2 separate regions of the Homo sapiens genome follow, and region 1 is linked to region 2. Evidence: fine-mapped expression QTL. A gene starts in region 2. The other region holds a variant in brackets. All regions are shown on one strand. Distances are from middle to middle.

Region 1 (5,382 bases), 130 kb before region 2:
TCTTCGGTGTTGATTAAGAATGGCACTTTGACTAAAGGAATTCCCACATTCACCACACTTATAAGGCCTTTCTCCAGTGTGAACTCTTTGGTGTTTAACAAGGGTGGCTTTTTGGCTAAAGGATTTCCCACACTGGCTACACTCATAAGGCCTTGCTCCAGTGTGTATTTTCTGGTGGTCAACAAGGCTGGAGTTTTGTCTAAATAATTTTCCACATTCGCTGCACTCATAAGGCCTTTCTCCGGTGTGGATTCTCCGATGATCATTCAGGTGGGAGGTTTGGCTAAAGAATTTTCCACATTCATTGCACTCCCAAGGCCTTTCTCCAGTATGGACTCTCTGGTGCTGAACAAGTGAGTACTTGCCACGGAAGGCTTTCCCACATTTGCTACACTCATAAAGCTTTTTTCCAGTGTAGACTCTTGGATGGTAAACAGGAGTGTGTTTGTGCCTGGAAGCCTTCCCACATTCACCTGACTTGTAATGACTTTTTTGACTGCGAATGTCCTCCCCACATTCAGTAATTGTGCCGGGTTTCTTGCCTCCAGGAAAGACCAGGGACCTCAGAAGCCGCAACATGGCTGGAAGGTCCTTTCCAACCTCCCATTTGCGAAAGGGCTTCAATGACATACAGAATAGGCAGCACTTCACATATGAGGCTCTGTCCATGTCCCTCTTCAAGGATTTCTTTGCACTGTGATGCTTCTGGTGCTGGTGATGGTTTGTACATTCTCCAACCAAGTATGGTTTCTGCCCAGGGAGATCAGCTAGATGCAAAATATCTTTCAGGACTGGGACACACATCTCACAGGATTGAGTCTTCTGTGTGGATGAACCTGCCTTTGACTGTGACACTCCTACAGAAACATTCTGGTCAGAAGGTGTCTCTTCATCCTCTGTTCCATGGCCACAACCTGAAAGCAGAGAACCGCTGATGAAATATACATTGACTATGCTGAGAGCAAGAAGCCCCATTACACACATACCAAACGAATGATTCACCAGGTTTGTTTTGAGGATAATGGAGCTGGGGGCAAGTTGAGGAAGGGGTTGCTTTGCAATACTGGATCTCTAAAGATCACAGAATGAGGGAGGCCTCACCAAATAAAGGACACAAGGATGGGATGAAGGACAGGGAATGGCATTGCCTTCAAACCATTCCTCTACCAACAGCCTCAAAAATTATCCTTGAGTAGCCTTCCAATTCCTAAAACTCACCACATAGTCTTCAGGAGGACCTTGTCTGCTGGTGACACCTGCATGCTGTGCAGAAGGTTGACTGTGCCCAAGCCCAGGAAAATACAATTGAAACTGAGTAGCAAGTGATATGATCACATATCTTCATGTGGTCATATATACATACTTCATGAGACATTATGTGTGTGTCAATGTTGGAAAACATTGCAGAGGGAGCAGTGCAGAGAAGCAGATGATGCATGAAGATCAGAAAGGTGGAGGTAGCCAGGTGCTAGAAGTCATAGATAAAAATAATAAGAGAGAGAAGTGTCAAGTACTGAGAAGAAAATATAGAAATGAGATTTGGCCAGTGGCATGTGCACCCAAACAGTGGTGAAGACAGGACAGGCTCCTTATGTGATCGGAAAACAGCCCGGATATCATGCCCCCAACCAGTTGCCACTCAACAAGCCCAGGCCTTCTCTGAGACCATGTTCACCCTATAAAGCAACCAGGTTTCTCTGCACACCCTCAGTTGTCTAGCTATGTGGGACCTTCATGAAGCCAAGTCCTACCAGAAAGACAGAACATGTGAGTGATCAGCACTGATGCAGAACGACTCAGCACACAACAGCCCATGGGCAAGAAAGTTAATATCATTAAACAAACAAACAAACAAACAAACTAGAAGGAGTGAGTAAGAAGAGCCCATTGTCCCCATAAGTATAGACAATGACAATGACTACAATCATGACACAGGTAGCCACAAGAAAATGTCAGCTAGCAGATGGGGGTGCAGGGAACTTGGGACACAAGGTGTCATGGATCTGAACACAGACACCCAGCCAAGAAGAGAGCAAGGAACAGAGATCCATTTGGCTGACTGAAGAACACCTGCTGCCCAGTGGCAGGTGTTCCCAGACCACTGGGCAGCAGGTGTTCCCAGACCACTGGGCAGCAGGTGTTAGGGCTACTCAGGCAGTGCACAGTGCTGGATCCCATAGCACATATCCCAAGAAAGT[G/A]GAGAAGTCAGCAAAAGACCATAGACAGACCAGGACACTGGAGTTGGTATTAGGGCCTTACCCAGTGAGGCTACAAGGGCAAAGTTCTCCAGCATCACTTCAAGGTACAGGAGTCTCTGAGCCTCATCAAGAAGTCCCCACTCGTCCTGTGAGAAGTAAATGGCGATGTCCTCAAAGGTCACACAGCCCTGTCATGATGGGGACAGGTCACTCCACAATCAACGCCTCCACAAGTTCATCCACCCACGCAATCATCCCCACCTTAAGGAAATACAGGCCCTGGTGACACAGATGCCCACTCTCTTTTCATGGTCCCAATGATCACTGTATCCTTCTACAGCACCAACCAGGAGGTGGGCAGGATGCACCACATCTAAACTTTGGGCCCGGTATGTAGGAGTGTATCCCTTCTTGTCAGGCAGTTCCCCAAGGGTCTTTCAGATAGTGCCTCCTAGACACAATCAAATGTGGCTTCACCTTTGACCCTTAAGTCCTCAATGCCAGGGGCCTGGGTCCTTCAGTTCACACTCCCTCTCCATGTACACATCATTCTTTGAACCATACTCGCTCAGTCTCACTCCCACGGCTACCTCCACCCCTCTGCCTGCCAAATTGAGACATCATCCAGTGCTACACAGACCTCTGATGGTTCCTACTGTCATAGACAGCCCCCACCCTGCTCTGAAGGGCTATCTTCCTGACTCTGTTCCTTGCTTCAACCTCAGCCACCAAGAATCACCTGATGTCAGACACCGATGGCCGTCCTCCACTTGTGCTGCACTTGATGTCCCCTCTTCAATCAACAACCTTCTTCTCACCTCTTAACCCTCATTCAAAATCAGTGGCCTCAGTGGCACAGACTCTCAGTGGCTCTCTACCTCCAACCTAATGACTCATACAGATGAACACTTGTACTCCTAAACTTATTCAACTGCTTGACTCACACCCTCCCCAGACTCACCAAGGGTCACAACAAATTCCTGGCGAGTTTTTACCATGGTGAATAAGCACTAGTCCTAGTGTTTTAGTCAGTTTGGCCTGCTAGCATAATACCACAAACTGGGTGGCTTATCAACAACAGAAATTTATTTCTCACAGATCTGCAGGCAGGAAGCCTGAGATCAGAGTGCCAGCATGGTCAGGTTCTGGTAGGGACTCTTTCCAGGTTGCAGACTGCTGACTTCTTGTATCCTCACTTGTTGGAAAGAGCACTAGATAGTAGCTCTCTGGCCTCTTTGTTTAAGAGCACTCACTAATCCCATTCATTAGGGCTCCACCCTCATGACCTAATTATCTCCCAAAGGCCCAACCTCCAAATACCATCACACTGGAATTAGGCTTTAAGCATATGAATTTTGCGGGGACACAGTCCACTGTACCTGGCCTCAGTGTCATCTTCTACCAATTATTTCTTTATCTCCATGTCTGTCTTATGTCCCTAATGCCTTGGAAGCCTTGACCACTTATCAGATGATATGATTTGGCTGCGTCCCCACCCAAATCTCTTCTTGAATTGTAGTTCCCACAATTCCCATGTCATGGGAGGGACCTGGTGAGAGGTAATCGAACCATAGGGGCAGGCCTTTCCCATGCTGTTCTCATGATAGTAAATAAGTCTCACAAGATTTGATGGTTTTATAAGGGGGGAGTTCCCCTGAACAAGTTCTCTCTTGTCTGCTGCCATGCAAGACATGCCTTTCACCCTCCACCATGATTGTGAGGCCTCCCCAGCCACGCGGAATCATGAGTCCATTAAACCTCTTTTTCCTTACAAATTATCTAGTCTCCAGCACATCTTTATCAGCAGCATGAAAATGGACTAATACAGTAAATCAGTATGAGTAAAGTGGGGCTGTGCTGTAAAGATAACTGAAAATGTGGAAGCAATTTTGGAATTGGGGAACAGGCAGAGGTTGGAACAGTTTGGAGGGCTCAGAAGAAGACAGGAAAATATGGGAAAGTCTGGAACTTCCTAGAGACTTGCTGTCTTTATCAGCAGTGTGAAAATGGACTGATACACCAGATCATCCTCTTTCCTACAATCTTCCCATGACCACTTTTCTCTCACAACTGTTTGTGATGCTCACCACCTCTACCACGTGTCCAAGCATGAGACACAGTCATAGCCCCAACCTTCCCTTTTCTGTTTTTTTGTTTTGTTTTTGAGATGGAGTCTCACTCTGTCACCCAGGCTGGAGTGCAGTGGCGTGATCTTGGCTCACTGCAACCTCCGCCTCCTGGGCTCAAGCAATTCTCCTGCCTCAGCCTCCCTAGTAGCTGGGATTACAGGTGCCTGCCACCACGCCTGGCTAATTTTTGTATTTTTAGTGGAGACGGAGTTTCACCATGTTGGCCAAGCTGGTCTAGAACTCCTGACCTCAAGTGATCCGCCTGCCTCGGCCGCCCAAAGTGCTGGGATTACAGGTGTGAGCCACCACACCCAGCCCTTTCCTGCATTATAAATAGCATTATCTTCAAGACCAGGATTACCCACTCCTAATTGTGACCCATAGCTACTCTGGGCCAAACACTGGCCACCACCTTTTGGATTTCTCCATCTTAAACCACTTCCAGAATTCTAGATGTACATGGACAGCTACTCACCTGATGTCTCCATATATCATTCTTTGGAATATCTCAGACTATGATAATAGCTAAAGACAAAACTCCTGTTATCCTTAATGAAAATTAATTGGCTGGGCATGGTGGCTCACGCCTGTAATCCCAGCACTTTGGGAGGCCAAGACAGGTGGATCACCTGAGGTCAGGAGTTTGAGACCAGCCTGGCCAACATGGTGAAACCCTGTCTCTACTAAAGATACAAAAAAAAAAAAAAAAAAAAATTCGCTGGGCATGGTAGCACGGTAGCATGTGCCTGTAGTCCCAACTACTCAGGAGGCTGAGGCAGGAGGATTGCTTGAACCCGGGAGGTGGAGGTTGCAAAGAGCCAAGATCGAGCCACTGCACTCCAGCCTGAGTGACAGAGTGAGACTGTCTAAAAATAGACAAATAAATAAATAAAATAAAAATAAAATCAATCCTATAACATGCTATTTGATGGAGATTCCATCCTTCCAGATGCTAAATTCAAAATGCCTGGAGTAATGCTTGACCAGTATCTCTTACCCTCAAAATCTGAAAATGCAAGCAGGCCTAATTAAAATTCTGACCCAGAATCCAGCCA
Region 2 (5,382 bases):
GAGATTACAGGCATGAGCCACCACACCCGGCCCTCACTATCATCTTAATATTTTCCTAATTTTACTTATACTGATTTGAGGAGAGTCTCTTGCTACAAATGTGTTGGACTTGCTGCTTGTGTCTGTATAGGACAAAGACTATGGAGCCACTGACCCACACCAAGAAGCCAAAACTCAAAAAGTCAGGAGAAAAGTATATAATTGTATATAAGGTGCCAAATATTTCTTGCATTGCCCAGGAGCAGACTCCATAATTGTTTTTCACACTAAGGTTTTTGCTGTTCAGTGGGCTGTTATTAAAACGTCAAGAAACAACAGATGCTGGCAAGGTGGTGGAGAAATAGGAATGCTTTTCCACTGTTGGTGGGAAGGTAAATTAGTTCAACCATTGTGGAAGACAGTGTAGCAATTCCTCAAAGACCTAAAACCAGAAATACCATTTGACCCAGCAATCCCATTACTGTGTATATATCCAAAGGAATATAAATCATTCTATTATTATCATTCTGTTATAAGGATACATGCATGTATATGTTCATTGCAGCACTATTCACAATAGCAAAGAAATGGAATCAACCCAAATGCCCATCAGTGATAAAGAAAATGTGGTACATATACACCATGGAATACTATGCAGCCATAAAAAGAATGAGATCACGTCCTTTGCAGGGATATGGATGGAGCTGGAAGCCATTATCCTCAGAAAACTAACACAGAAACAGAAAACCAAACACCAAATGTTCTCACTTATAAGTGAGAGTTGAGCGATGAGAACACATGGAGACAGGGAGGGGAACAACACACACTGGAATATGTCAAAGGGGTCGGGGGATGGAGCACATCAGGATAAATAGCTAACGCATGCTGAGCTTAATACCTAGGTGACGGGTTGATAGGTGCAGCAAACCACCATGGCACACGTTTACCTATGTAACAAACCTACACATCCGGCACCTGTATCCTGGAACTTTAAAAAATTAAATTAAATTGGCGCGGTGGCTCACGCCTGTAATCCCAGCACTTTGGGAGGCCAAGGTGGGTGGATCACGAGGTCAGGAATTCGAGACCAGCCGGGCCAACATGGTGAAACCCCATCTCTACTAAAAATACAAAAAAAATTTAGCCAGGCGCAGTGGCAGGCGCCTGTAATCCCAGATACTCAGGAGGCTGAGGCAGGTGAATCGCTTGAACGTGGGAGGTGGAGTTTGCAGTGAGCCGAGATAGCGCCACTGCACTCTAGCCTGGGCAACAGAGTGAGACTCTGTCTCAAAAAAAAAAAAAAAAGAAAGCAAAGAAAGAAAAAAAAATTAAATTAAATTAAAAAAAAAAAGGAAAATCTGTCTGAAAATTCTCACCAGTTACCAACACTTCTTTCTGAGGCTAGGAGGAGAAGGAGGTGGTATGTTAAAGTCAATAATCACACTAACTTTATACATACAAGAAGCTTTCAAAATAGTCATAGTAAAAATGGTACTTTATAAGGAGAAGCTGAAAAAATAGGAAACCAAATGCATATTGGAAATAAATTATACAACTAGGACAATGGAGCAAAATAAGAGATTAAAGCAAAGAATCAGGAACTATCTTGAAAATAAATGATGAGTTCATATAAATAGGAAAAACATTTGTCAACAAGTGGTTTGTGGGAATCTAAAAGGTTTTCATACCTCAGAGCCTGAGTTTTTTTTTTTTTTTTTTGAGACCGAGTTTCACTCTTGTTGCTCAGGCTGGAGTGCAATGGCATGATCTCGGCTCACTGCAACCTCCGCCTCTGGGGTTCAAACGATTCTCCTGCCTCAGCCTCCCGAGTAGCTGGGATTACAGGCATGCGCCACCACCTCTGACTAATTTTTGTATTTTTAGTAGAGACGGGGTTTCTCCCTGTTGGTCAGGCTGGTCTCGAACTCCCGACCTCAGCTGATCCACCAGCCTCGGCCTCCCAAACTGCTGGGATTACAGGCGTGAGCCACCTCTCGCCTGAGAATCTTGATACTGCTGTGTTATTGATTGCTCCACCCCTAAAGAGATGTAGTTATTCATGGGAGAAAATACCTCATAATTTTCCCTGATGATAGCAATTCCATAGAGACACCAAAAGAATCTAAATTATGGCCGGGCGAGGTGGCTCATCCCTGTAATCCCAGCACTTTGGGAGGCCGAGGCGGGCGGATCACGAGGTCAGGAGATCGAGACCATCCTGGCTAACACGGTGCAACCCCGTCTCTACTAAACACACACACACACACACACACACACACACACACACTAGCCGGGCGTGGTGGTGGGCGCCTGTAGTCCCAGCTACTCAGGAGGCTGAGGCAGGAGAATGGCGTGAACCCAGGAGGCTTCAGCCTCCCGAGTAGCTGGGACTACAGGCACGCACCACAACACCCAGCTAATTTTTGTATTTTTAGTAGAGACGGGGTTTCACCATGTTGGCCAGGATGGTCTCCATCTCCTGACCTTGTAATCCACCCGCCTCAGCCTCCCAAAGTGCTGAGATTACAAGCGTGAGCCACCGTGCCTGGCCGCAGTTACTATTTCTTTTGTGATTGATATATATGAATATTGTGCAATGAAATTCCCTCCCAATTGAATTATCTTTCCCTAAAAATAAACCCAAGCTTTCTGGAACATATTGAATTTCCTATTTAACAAGTTTTAAGGATATCTTAGGTGTTTCTGGGATTAGTATTTATTTTCAGGATCTTTTGCATTTACTTGTGAGAAATGGCATTGAGATAAAAATGTGTGGGCTCAAGGTGGTCATGGTTATTTCTACGGAGTCAATTCACAATCTCTAGACCTGTCCGGTGGAAAATAACAGAAATATATGTGCTTAAAATAAAATATACCATGATGCAATGTTGATTGTTCCAAAAATTATAGTTTTTAAAAATTCTTCAAGTTAGCATTTGTACTGTGCTGAAGGCCTTGTTACCAATTGTATTGTAGCGTTTTTTTAATTTCTTTTTTTTTTTTTTTTGAGACAGAGTCTCGCTCTGTCGCCCAGGCTGGAGGGCAATGGTTTGATTTCAGCTCACTGCAACCTCTGCCTCCCAGGTTCAAGCGATTCTCCTGCCTCAGCCTCCCGAGTAGCTGGGACTAGCACGCGCCGCCATGCCCGGCTAATTTTTGTATTATTAGTATTTTGTATTATTAGTAGAGACAGGGTTTCACCATGTTGGCCAGGATGGTCTCCATCTTGGCCTCCCGAAGTGCTGGAATTACAGGTGTGAGCCACTGCACCCGGCCTAAAATTTGTTTCAATGCATCAATAACAATGGTGTTTACTAAAATATTAGTGTGGAAAAGGTTTTATGGTGTATTATTTTTGCTTTTCATATCTCCAGGCTACTTAATTGAAGGTTTTATTGAAATAAGTGTAGACTCACAAGCAGTCATAAGAAATAATACAGAAAAAGCCCTGTCCATATTACCCAGGGTTCCGTCATGATTACATTTTGCAAACTATAGTATAATATCACTCTAATGATATTGACTCTTCTGTGTTCTGTTTTTATATATTTCCCTAGTTTTGCTTGTATTTACTTGTTGCATGTGTGTAAGCCCTGAGTTTTATAGGTTTGATTTGTGGATCTGTTGTGCGGTTGAGCCCTCATTCATTCACCTGCTTCTCTGCAGTTGGACACACAAGCAATTGCCTTTGCACGAACAGGGACAATCTTAATTTCTGTTTAAGATGAGAAAATATGGTTGGAGACACATTAAAACTTCTGTCTCCACTGATGACAAGATACTTCTTTCTGCTTTTTTATTCTACTGATTCTTCAGACCTCAATGAAAATCAACATCCCCTAGATTTTGATGAAATGGCTTTTGGAAAAGTAAAATCAGGGATTAGCTTCCTCATTCAGACTGGAGTTGGGATCCTGGGAAATTCCTTTCTCCTTTGTTTTTATAACTTAATTTTGTTCACTGGACACAAGCTGAGACCCACGGACTTGATTCTCAGCCAACTGGCCTTGGCTAACTCCATGGTCCTTTTCTTTAAAGGGATACCTCAGACAATGGCAGCTTTTGGATTGAAATATTTGCTGAATGACACTGGATGTAAGTTTGTCTTTTATTATCACAGGGTGGGCACAAGAGTTTCCCTCAGCACCATCTGCCTTCTCAATGGATTCCAAGCCATTAAGCTCAACCCCAGTATATGCAGGTGGATGGAGATCAAGATTAGATCCCCAAGGTTTATTGACTTCTGTTGTCTCCTCTGCTGGGCCCCCCATGTCTTGATGAATGCATCTGTTCTTCTATTAGTGAATGGCCCACTGAATAGCAAAAACAGTAGTGCAAAAAACAATTATGGATACTGTTCTTACAAAGCATCAAAGAGATTTAGCTCATTACATGCAGTCTTATATTTTTCCCCTGATTTTATGAGTTTGGGCTTCATGGTCTGGGCCAGTGGCTCCATGGTCTTCTTCCTCTACAGACACAAGCAGCAAGTCCAACACAATCACAGCAACAGACTCTCCTGCAGACCTTCCCAGGAAGCCAGAGCCACACACACCATCATGGTCCTGGTGAGCTCCTTTTTTGTTTTCTATTCAGTCCATAGTTTTCTGACAATTTGGACAACTGTAGTTGCAAACCCAGGCCAGTGGATAGTGACCAACTCTGTGTTGGTCGCCTCATGTTTCCCAGCACGCAGCCCTTTTGTCCTCATCATGAGTGATACTCATATCTCTCAGTTCTGTTTTGCCTGCAGGACAAGGAAAACACTCTTTCCTAATCTGGTTGTCATGCCATGAGTCTTTTCTCTTCATGGAATTCAGCTATTTATCATAACTCTTGCTAAGATTTAGGAAATATTAACTACTAGTTATTTGTGATAGCAACATACACATGGCCAGTAATGCTCTTGTCCAGGAAGATCTAATACCAGAGCTAAAAATGAAAGTCATGGATACTGTTACACAAAGAACACTCTATATAACTGTGTTAAGTCCTTCAGACAAGTTCAGGAAATCAAAAAGTTTAAAAAGGGAATTCTTTAGAGATTTAGGGGAGATTTCTCATTTTTGTACTATGAAGAATCATGGAATGTTTTAAAAATATTTTTAAAGCACAGTTTGATTCAGGTGCTTCTTGAACAGCATAAATCCCCTGGAGAGTCCACATGTAAGAAAGACATGTGCAGGCCGGGCACAGTGGCTCACGCCTGTAATCCCACCGTTTTGGGAGGCTGAGGCACTCCCAAATGCCTCAAGTGATCCACTCAAGATGACTTGAGGCCAGGAGTTCGAGACCAGCCTGGCCAACATGGCAAAAACCCTGTCTCAAATACAAAAATTAGCCAACCATGTGGCACACACCTGTAGTCCCAGCTACTCCAGAGGGTGAAGCACGAGAATTACT

Evidence for each region. PIP is the estimated chance that this variant, and not a neighbour inherited with it, causes the effect.
Region 1: its variant is fine-mapped to the expression of VN1R1 in thyroid (GTEx, PIP above 0.99).

Annotation. Positions count from the first base shown.
Region 1 is chr19:57,585,543-57,590,924 of GRCh38, reverse strand. It overlaps ZIK1 (zinc finger protein interacting with K protein 1), which reads right to left. Exons shown (of 4, transcript NM_001010879.4): 3 at 2,260-2,386; 4 at 1-914. Among named protein-coding and RNA genes, the nearest start is that of ZIK1, 4.1 kb to the right of the region's middle. The variant G/A (reference allele first, on the strand shown) is at 2,199.
Region 2 is chr19:57,454,818-57,460,199 of GRCh38, reverse strand. VN1R1 (vomeronasal 1 receptor 1) reads left to right here and starts at 3,060. Exons shown (of 1, transcript NM_020633.4): 1 at 3,060-5,382. The coding sequence starts at 3,714. The coding sequence ends at 4,775. It also overlaps the pseudogene VN1R107P.